3 linked regions of the Homo sapiens genome follow. The protein of the gene in region 2 interacts with the protein of the main gene of each other region in a biochemical or structural test. Each region holds a gene or a part of one and is shown on either strand. Other genes may lie near its edges.

What was found. Proteins that work in one complex are often made in the same cells at the same time.
Region 1: the proteins of LMO7 (region 2) and SLCO1C1 interact in a test that uses a peptide from one of them, tested with the Homo sapiens proteins (one large-scale study listed by IntAct).
Region 3: the proteins of LMO7 (region 2) and DGKK interact in a test that uses a peptide from one of them, tested with the Homo sapiens proteins (one large-scale study listed by IntAct).

Annotation. Positions count from the first base shown.
Region 1 is NC_000012.12:20,701,832-20,705,331, reverse strand, and holds part of SLCO1C1 (solute carrier organic anion transporter family member 1C1), read right to left. Parts: intron 1-3,500. UniProt on the Homo sapiens protein: Mediates the Na(+)-independent high affinity transport of organic anions such as the thyroid hormones L-thyroxine (T4), L-thyroxine sulfate (T4S), and 3,3',5'-triiodo-L-thyronine (reverse T3, rT3) at the plasma membrane.
Region 2 is NC_000013.11:75,800,330-75,803,829, reverse strand, and holds part of LMO7 (LIM domain only protein 7), read right to left. Parts: intron 3,147-3,500; coding exon 2,948-3,146; intron 1-2,947.
Region 3 is NC_000023.11:50,460,826-50,464,325, forward strand, and holds part of DGKK (diacylglycerol kinase kappa), read right to left. Parts: intron 1-3,500. UniProt on the Homo sapiens protein: Diacylglycerol kinase that converts diacylglycerol/DAG into phosphatidic acid/phosphatidate/PA and regulates the respective levels of these two bioactive lipids.

The DNA of each region.
Region 1 (3,500 bases), on a different chromosome or scaffold from region 2:
CAACATATGCCTATAAAGCAAATTTTATGAAATACAAAATCTCTATAAAATGTGCCCATTTATCTCTTTTGTGAAAAATGGTTTAAAAATATTGGGTTTTTTTGAAAGTAGAAATTATGGTTTTCTAAAATGTCTCTAATGAAGCATGTGACACGTTACTTTTAGTTGATGATGGTGATAAGTGATTAAACATGTTTCAAGTAATATTTCTCACGCTTTGCTGTGCGTAAAAATACTGACAGGAAACGGTTAAGGAAATGAAAACTTGTTAAAAATGCGATTCTTGGCAAGTACCAAACGTTTCTGATTCCATGGATCTGAGGTCAGGCCAAGAAATCTGCATTTGTAATACTAACTCAAGTGTGTTGATGGAGATGATTCCTAGAACATGCTTTGATAAACATTGTTTAGGGTTTTAGACTTCAAGGGGCTTTAAAGCTTTAGCTATATTTATTTGAGATATTTAGTTTTTAAGATGTACCATGCTAAATACAGTAAGATCTTAACAATTTCCCAGCAATTGATTGTGATGGCTAATGGGTGGCCTTGCTTTGAAGTTCTCCTCATTTCCAATTTTTGAGCAAAGCATGTTTCCCTACATCTGTAAGCAATCATCTAATTTACTACTGTTCACGCACATTGCCAGCTTTAGTAAACTGGAAATAAAGCAGTAATTTTTGTGGGCTTGAGGATAATAAGAATGATAGTGAGAAACATGACTTGCACAGTGGTCCTAGTCTTTATGGCTCCAAGAAGAATTAAGCTCTTCTTAATGTTCATATTAAAAAACGAATAATTTAGCACAAGATGTCTCATTTGAAATTTAAGTATTTAGTAGAAGACATTGTGTATCATATTATTTTGATAATTCTATCTATATGTTTGTTAATGTACCACAATAAACGAACCAACATAAAATGAAAGTTGACATTCACTTTATAGGTAATTCTCTCCTATTCTCGCCTACACTCCACCAATACCACACAATAAACACTTCTGTTTACAAGCTATTTCTGTGTTACGTTAATGGGCATGTCATATACAAGACAATATGAGTTCAGTACCTGTAATACAGATATATATATATATCTATATACCATATATATACTGTATCTATCAAAGTTTTTGCTTCCTTAGTATCCTTTCTGAGTTGTCAGGAGATACATTTGAAATATAAATGATGATACAAAATCTTTAAAAAATGAAATTGGATATAAAAATTATTCCATATCTACCATCATTAGCCTCTCACAAAAAAACAGGTACAGAAAGTTTTAGAAATATGTCTTACCAAACTTTAAAGTAACATATTCTTGCTCTCCTCTCTTTTTCTGTCTGTCTATGCACACACACACACACACACACACACACACACAGACACACTCGAGATAACAGAAAAAAAAGAAAGCTACTCAATTCATCTTGTAAGACTACTATTTTCTTAAAACCAAAACTGGACAAGGACAATATAAGAAAAGACAATTAGAGCCCAAACTTGATTATGAAGATAGATGTAAAAATCCTAAACAAATTATTAGCAAACGGAATAGTATATACAAATAAAAATATCCCAACCAAGCGCAGTTCATTATAGTAGTACAAGAGTACCACCAACTAACAATAAATTATTAATTAAATCCCTATATAACAAATGGAAGGGGAATAATTCCATGGTTAACTTAATAGACACTGTAAAAGTACTAAATAAAATTAACCATTGATTTATGTTAGGAAAAAACAAATCTGAGCAAACCAGCTTTTAAAGTGTATCTATCAAAACCACAAAGCAAGCATATTGCTTAATACTAAAATTTTAAAAGTATTTGCATCAAGGTCAAACACAAGAGAAAGATGTCCATTGTAAATGCTTCTCTTCAACACAGTTCTGAGGCTAATGTAATAAGGTAATATCAACAACAACAACAAAAATCTAAGAGTTGCAAAGAAAGATACGAAATTATATTTTGTTTTAGACAATTTGTCCACAAAACTCTACAGTTTCCATGGAAAATCAATTAAAACTAATAGAATTTCAACAAAGTTGCCACATACAAATAACATAAAGACGGAGGATGATATTTGTTCTAGAATCTTGAAAAGAAGGAATGCAAAAAGAGGCAAAAGAAGTAAATTAAGATTATGTTCAGCGAAGTCATTTGTCTGGAAATTTATGTAACTCAAATAATTAGGGCAAACCTGTGATGTTTGGGATAAAGGTTTTCAATGGAAGTAAGAGAACTTTTAAGCCATTTTAAGGCATCCAATCCAATAAATAATTTATATACCTAGAATGGTCTGGAAGAATTAATGTGAATTTGGAGTCATGGTTTTCTGCTACTTCCTGTGAAAACTTAGTATACTCTCTCTATCAAATATAAACTTTGTCTCTCAAGTTGCATCAGGACCTGGGAGCCCAAACAAAACTTTGGACCAAATCATTTCTATGCCTCTTCAGCTCTAAAATATTTTTATATAATAATCTAGAGTGAGAAAAACATCAAAACATCATGATATATAATGTTTTGCCTGCTCATATCTGCTCTATTCTTTTATCTGCACCAGTTACCTCTTTCTCCTTGTTTTTCTCTCATGATATAATGTATCACCCTTTACCTTGATTCTCTTTGGCCCTTCACTCAGTGCAGGGCCATCAGTAGAACAGGGCTCAAGGAATAAATCAACCATCCGGGCCAATCTAAGCAAATTACATAAAAGATTGATGTGATCAGATGTTTTGGAAACCTGCTACACAAAATGTGATCTACTGACTAGAAGCATCAGTATCATTTAGGAGCTTATTAGAAATGCAGAATTTTATCCTGTTCCTACCAATTCAGGTTTTAAAAAAAGATTTTTAAAAGATTGCCCAGTTATTTGTGTGGACATTAAAATTTGGCACTAAGAAATGTCATTCTGGAAGGATGACAAAAGATGAATTTGGGAAGCAAATGCCTGAAGGCAAAAGGTTACTTATTCATTTTATTTTTTCTGTGATATTCAGAGTAAGAACCAAAACACATAGTATGTATGAAAAGAAATAAATTGTTAAAGAGTTGAAAAATATTTATTCACTTTTCTGAAAGTTCACCAGGTAAAGCTAAAATTGGAGCAGTTAGAGGTTTTACTATGGTGTATATCTGAATCTAAACAAGCCTTAAGGACCAGAGAGGGTACTATTTCGTTTACTTCAGCAAAAAATTAAAGCCTTTTAGTTTATCAATTCAGGAAGCAGACTAACTAGGATTATCCTCTTTAAATTACTTCTAAAACAGTGACTCAAATTACTCGATCTTTTTAATTTCTAAGGAGTCTGTAGTCAATTGCTAACCAAAGGCACCTGAGATTTGAATTTTTATTGCCTGCTCTGATCTTGTGTTCTTGGTAATAGAATCCCTTTATTCTTCTTTCTAGACCACTGGGTGGAAAAATCCCTTTTATGATGTAACTTCTATTCATCATTGCAGTAAATTCTTGTAGAGCGCATTTGGATTATTCCACAC
Region 2 (3,500 bases):
AAGAAAAAAAAAAACAAGCTTGTAAAGGGTCTGGATAGATTCTATAAACCAGAATCACACATTAGATATGAGGCTGGACTGGATGACTTCTAAAGTTCCAAAGGAATCTGAAGTCTTATGCCCAAATGAGAGCACAGAACTCACAGTTTCTTCAGAGTGGCCATGGAAATTATATTGGGAACGCTGTATTATGATTCAAAATCATTTAAACACAAATTCAAAAGAACACCCTTTGATACTCCTCAAGGTCAGATAGATACAAATAGTAATCTGCTTTCTTAAAAGAAGAAGAATGAATCTACTCTTTTAAAGACAAAGGAAGAAAAGGGGGGAGAACAACACTACAGATCCAAGCCAAGCTGTCCCTCTTTCACACCCTTCTCTTCCTGCCTCCTGTGCACTTGTAAAGGTTTGGAAATGTTACTTGCTTCTCACCAGGGTTCTCTCCAGGCCTGGCTGTGCACAGTGCCTGACAGCTACAAGCTCTCAGCAGGTAGAGCACCTGCAGGGTTAACCTGAGTTAAATGCAGTCTCTTCCCCTCCCTCCTGCCTGGCAGGAAGCTACAGTAAATAACACTGAGAACAGTCTACAGGAAGTCGCTTAACATACAGCTATGAGACAGGGACAGAGTAAAAGGAGAGTAGAGTCTTGGCAAAAGAGGGAAAGTAAACGCAGCTGTGACCATGAGGAGTAGTAGTCAATAAACTGGTGCTTTCTTTTTACCACCTTCTAAAAAATCAGACATTTATTTCTCATTTCCAATAAGTATATCAATTACTCCTGCCGAAATCCATACATGTGGAATTTTAAAGTCATAAAGAGACTATTTTACTTTCTAACTTTTAAGAAAAAGTATTTTTTAGCCCAGTACGGTGTCCTGCAGAGAATTTTTTCCCCCAAAGTATCATTCTTGATATGAGTTTTCACGTAAAACTAGAGAATGTGACATTGCAATTCTGTTATCCTAAAAATATTACCCTACATTATAGTGCTCATCAATTTAGGACTACAATCTAGAGAGTAGCAGTAGAATTTTAACACACTGATCACAAAAGAGCTTTATCGGCCTGGTGCCTCCATCCCAGGCTTTTTTTCCCCGCTTAGTTGTAATTTCCAAGACTTCACTTACGCACTCTTTAAACAAGGTCTGCAGCCCCATTTCCAAGATCAGAAAGGGATGTGACAGTGGCCTTCTGCTTTTGGTTACATGGACAGGTGCCCATTCCAACAAGGATCTGAGAAGACGACTTAGATTCCACACCGCTGGGTGGGCCACTGCATCTGAACTGACTGAAGCCTGCATATTCCCACATGCCCTCTATCCCTTCCCCTTTTATTCCTTGACTAGATATAAATTCTGTCATTACATGGAGTAGGTTCTTCAGTAAGGGAAAAGAAATACAGCGGGTTCAGAATTTCAGCCTCTGCTTTTACAGCTTTAACCACTCAGATGAATCACATACTCAGATTCATTTCCTTAAACGTATTGGAATCGTCATCTGGGCTATGAAAATGTCACACCTTGACAGCAAACAGCCAATACGTGTGGCAGTAATTATAAAGGTTAATGCTGAAATAGCGTTTCACATTTTTTATTTTTAAAAACTACTACTCTAAAAGATAAAGCCTTCAGGTTTTTTGTTACCATGCTTAATAAATTGTTGATTGGTTTTTTGGAAAACAAATTCATAGCATGTTGTATTTATATAAGTTTCACATCAGAAGTAAAACAAAGAATAAATTCTAGTTAATGATGTTCATACTGAAGTATTTAGGACAAGTGTGATATATTCTGAAATGCCTCAAAAAATAAGATGACTAAATTATAATAGAGAAAGGAGGGAGGGAGAAAGAGAAAGAGAGAGAGAGGAGAGAGAGATGAGTATAAGATAAAGCATGCATAGTAAAACATCATGGTGGAATTAGGCAGCGAATACATGTGTGTTCGCTGTACAATTATTTTAAGTTTGCTGATTTTTGACATTTTTGTCATAGATATGCTAGGAAAAATATCTAGAAATAGAAAAGTAATATTCCAAATACACAAGCAATGTAAAATCCCTAACAATTAAGCACAAATCACAGCCAGAACTCAATGTTTTCACATTGATGTCGATAGAAGCACAGAAATATTTCAAAAAAAAAACTTCACTTGTGGTTTCAATCTAGTCAAATCTGAATAGCTGGAGATGTACACTCAGAAATTGCTGACGCTATACCCAGTAGCCACAGGAATAAGATGTGCATTGAAATAACTGAACTGACCATAAGCTTGGGATTTTGAAAGAAGGTTCCTTCCCGCAACAGAATGTCTCTAACATGTTCCTTTCACACTTGCTCTGTCCTGGGTTAGCTCTGACTCTGAAAGGACCAAAAGAGGATTTCTACCTGCATGTTAGGTGGTGGTATATTACTCAATCTACAAAGTTTAACATAATATTCTATCATGATAGATAGCAATCATTTCTTCTCATCTATAGAAATAATTGTAAAAATATTTTTCTTTTTTTGCTTAAGAGAGTTTTTTTAATCTTTTGAAAAAAGCCAAGGATGAAAGTTACTCAGAAACTAGAAGATTTTTTTTTTTTTTTGCAGAATCTTATATTCCTTTCTATGTTTAGATATATCAGTTTATAGAACTCTTGAACACAAATTAAGCCTGAATCTGGAGAGAGAAGAGCCAGGATAGATTATCACTGATAAAACAGGCCACAATTAACTGTCACCTCTCAGTCCTTTCCAGAAATGAAATTTTTCAAAAATGAAACTATCACCATCATGAAGGAGAAAAAAATAACAAAACCCCCAATTATACTCCAGTCTCTATGAAAATCCACTTCTAAGTGAAATTTTTGCCTAGTTTTTGCTCCATTTTTCTATTCTCTCCTGTTCCCAGTTCTCCCTTAATATGTGAACAAATAAACTGACAGCCAAAACACAACACACCTTCACGCCCCCCTCTCAACGTGATATCAGAGGAGCAGCTTGTCAATGACCTCGAGCCCAAAGAGTCCAAGCTTTCAAAGGAATCTTCTCTCTTATGGTGCCTTGGAGGAGCAAGAAATTCTCCACGTTCAGGACACCAGATGTCACCGTAGCCACTGTCCCTGCCACTTCTTTTCAGGAAGCTGGAGTCTTCGAGTGCCTAAAGAAAACGTTTTTTAAAGAATAGTAAGTTAAATAAACTTCCAAAAAATATAATCAATCGGTTATTACTTGCTTGTTTGCCTAATTTAAGTTGGGTTTTATTTGACATGTAAGGCATGAGGTTTCTCTGTCGGACACAGCAAAAAGCTGATGAAAAACAGAAAATAAATTTGTAATTGTTTGCCCACAACTGATACAATAAGGGGGTATTCAATATTCAAAGTAATAATAAGGAGATATTCAATATTATTTAATAAACTAGTACATATGTTCTATTTAAAAATAAGGAAAATTACTAGTTTAATGAAAGTTCATAGAGTAACATTGAAATGCTAAACTCAGTTATTACAGT
Region 3 (3,500 bases), on a different chromosome or scaffold from region 2:
CTTCTGGGTATGGCATACCCAGTTTAGCATAATGCTGTAACTTCTTGTTAAAGAGACAAAGCCATCACTAATTTTTTTTTTTTTTGGCATATAGTTAAAAGTGACTCAGAAATTTAGATTTTTTCCCTTTGGGAATTTAACAGTGGGAAGATAAGGTTGGTTTTGTTCTGGATCTCCTTCTCCAAGGCCAAGTCACAAAAGCTAACTGGACAAATAAAATCTAAGTGTCCAAAAAAGTGCAGTAAGTAAATGTGAGATCAAACTGCATTTGTATATGGGAGCAACTGCAACAATTGTGTCTACATAAAATCTATATACTTACTGCTTCACACAGCAAATATGCCCCTGAATGGTTGTGATTCAAGCATATGTTTAACAATCAGATCAGACAGGAGTTTGACTAGATGAACTTTAAGCTAAAATGAACAAGTGTTTCCTAAATCCAAGGTAGAATAATGAACACGATCTAATAATTAAGCGTGTGGGGCTGTGACTGGGGCAGGGTGAAGCCCGAGACACAATTGTGCATTCCCCAAAGTCTTACTACAGAAGACTATAAGCAAATATTCAGAGAAAATAAATGAAAAATATAGCAAAATATTAACAGTGATTATCTCTGAGTGGTGGGGTACTAGATGATTTTTATTTACTTTTTAGAAGCTTTCTTGATTTTCCACATTCTCTGAAATTAGCATGCATTCCTTTATTTTATTACATTGAATTTTAGTTTAAGTAGAGGAATGCTGAGAGAACTGACTATTAATAGTGAATACCTTGGCAAAGCATCTGGTAAAACAAATAACCACCATCTGCATATTTGTTTTGGTAATTGAGTCTCTCATTTACCAGTTTTGCTTAAAGGTAGTCTCATCCATGTGGTTTTGTTCACTGTAGAATCCTCAGTGGTTAGCACAATGTTAAACACATAGCACATAGGGAGCAGGTATCAGTTTACGTTTTAAAGAAATAAATGAATTTTAAAATTTGGAAAACATTAATTGAGTCTCTCTGCTTATAAATATGATTTGCAAATTTTATGGATTTGTGAAAATCAAGCCCTTTTATCGCCCTGCAGGAACAGACATCAAAGCCAGCACATAATGAAACATAATGGAGGATGGATCACCTCCATTACTGAGTTGGCGAAGGGTCCTTCCCTGTTAGGTAGGGGTGTCTGACTAATTGGTAGTTAATAGCAAGAGTGTCACTGCTTTTGAGTTTATCATCAACTCTTAATTCTCTGTAGTGTTAGATGGGAACAATGACGCAGCGAATTCCCAAATCATTTGTTCGGTTTGGAAAAGAGGTATGATTTTTCCCCAGAAGGTTTGCCTCCTAATTCTTTTTCTTTTGGACAGTGCCTTTCTTGGGAGTGTTGCCTACCTGGATGATGGGGAAGGTAACCAGAAATAGACTGGGGCAGCGGGAAGCCAGCCTGGGATTAAAATGTATCATCCTTTAGCCTTAGTGCTGAATGTAAAGTTCACTGGTGCCATTTGAGAGGGATAGTACCTTTTCTTTGTACAACACTTCAGATCTGTGGAGCCTGTGGGAGAAGTGAGTGCTTTTTTTTTTTTTTTTTTTTTGAGGCTTTTTTTCTGTCTTTGCTTTTTCTTTTAAAAAATCTCAGGAAGAAAGTTCAATGGTGTTGGAGGGATTATAGCCAACTTGCCTTAGATTAGGAGGATTTCTTCCCTTTTCCTCAAATATTTTTTTTCTCCTCTTGGATGTGGAGAGGAATAAAGTCCATTGATTTTAGTAAAGTTGAAGGTATCTCCTCTTACAATGGAAGATTTTTTTCTTTAAAAATCTCCAGGGGAAAAGATTCATTGCTTTTGGTGGAGGTGGGGGAGCATCTCTCTTTAGGTCTGGAGGATTTCCATTAAAAAATAGGTTTTGTGGAGAGGACCTACAAGGGCAACTTGTTTTAATGAAGCTGGGGAGCCCTCCCTAGTAGGATTTTTCTTTCTTTCCTTTTCTTTAAAAGAAACAGTTTATTGGGAAAAATTAGAATGGGAGACATCTCTCCTGGAAAGATTTTCTTTTCCTTTCCTTGCTTTTTTTTTTTTTTTTTTTTTTTTTTTTTTTTTTAATGAAACAGTGAAGGCTGAAAGATACATAAGGTCCCTGGGATAGGGTGAGATTGGGTACATACCCACCACCCCCCCCACACGCACATTCCCCACCTTGAAGAAGCTTGAGAAAGAGATTTTGTGTGTGTGTGGTTTTTTTTTCCTTATTGTGGGGGATGGAGAGGGTAGTCATCAGGAATAATACGCAATGTCTGCAGTAAGGTGTTGGTGCATTTTCCTGGAGAGAATTTCTTTCTTTGATCCTTTAAAAAATAATCCCTTTGTTAATTTTCTTCTTCCTCTTTCCCACCCCTCCTTCTCTGCCACCTTCACTCTATCCTACCTAGTCCTTTTCCCCTTCCCTTCACATTTCTCCCCCCATCCTCCTTCCTCTCTCCCTCTCCTTTCCTCCGTCTCCCCTTTCTTTTTCCCTCTCCTCCCTTCTCTCCCCCTCTTTCTTTTTCCCTCTCCACCTCTCCCTTTGTCTCTCTCTCTGGCTCCCTCCCTTCCTCTGTCTCTCTCCCTCTTTTTTCCTCTCCCTATCTCAGTCTCTCCCTACCTGCTCCTACCTTCCTCTCCTCTCTACCTGTCCGGCTTTCCCCCTCCCTCCCTTCTCCCCTCCTCCCTCTCTTCCTCTCTCTGTTTCTCTCCCTCCTTCTCCCTTCTCTTCCTTCTTTCTCCCTCTCTCCTTCTCCCCTCCTCCCTCCCTTCCTCTCTCTGTTTCTCTCTCTCCTTCTCCCTTCTCTTCCTTCTTTCTCCCTCTCTCCTTCTCTTTGTTTCTTTTTTGTTTTCAGAAAAATATTCAAGGACTTTGGTGAGTTTGGGGGCATCTTCATTCCTTAAGAAAAATATTTCTCTTTAAAATATACTGTTCATGTTCTTCCCTTCCCGCCCCCCATAATTCTAAATGTATTTGCTTGTTTTGAGAAAAAAAGGGGCTTTGTTGAGGCTGAGAATACTTTTGTTTAAGAGGACTTTCTTGGCTTTGTGTTTCTCCCCTACCTATCTTTTCTATTTGTTCTCAAATTACAAAAATTCTATATTAAGAATAAATCTTTTGGTAAATTATATAAATATATTAAATTATCACATGTTCCCTGAAAATATGTACATCTATTATGCATCAGTTAAAAATTAATTAAAAATAAATAAATAAAATAAAAAGAATAAAGTTTTTGAGTGAATTTGAGTCAACTCCCATTAGAAGGATTTTCTTTCATTTTTTCTTCTTTTAAAAAAATCGGTTTTTTTTTTTTTGGTTGTGTTTTGACAGGAAAATTAATGGGTCTTTGTGACATTGAAGTACTTCTTCTCTTTAAGAGGATTCTGTTTTTGTTTCATTAGTAATATCCTCTTCACCAACACATATACCCTTCCATTCTTAATTTTATTTTAAATCTTAAAAAAAATTGTATTTTAAGAATAAGG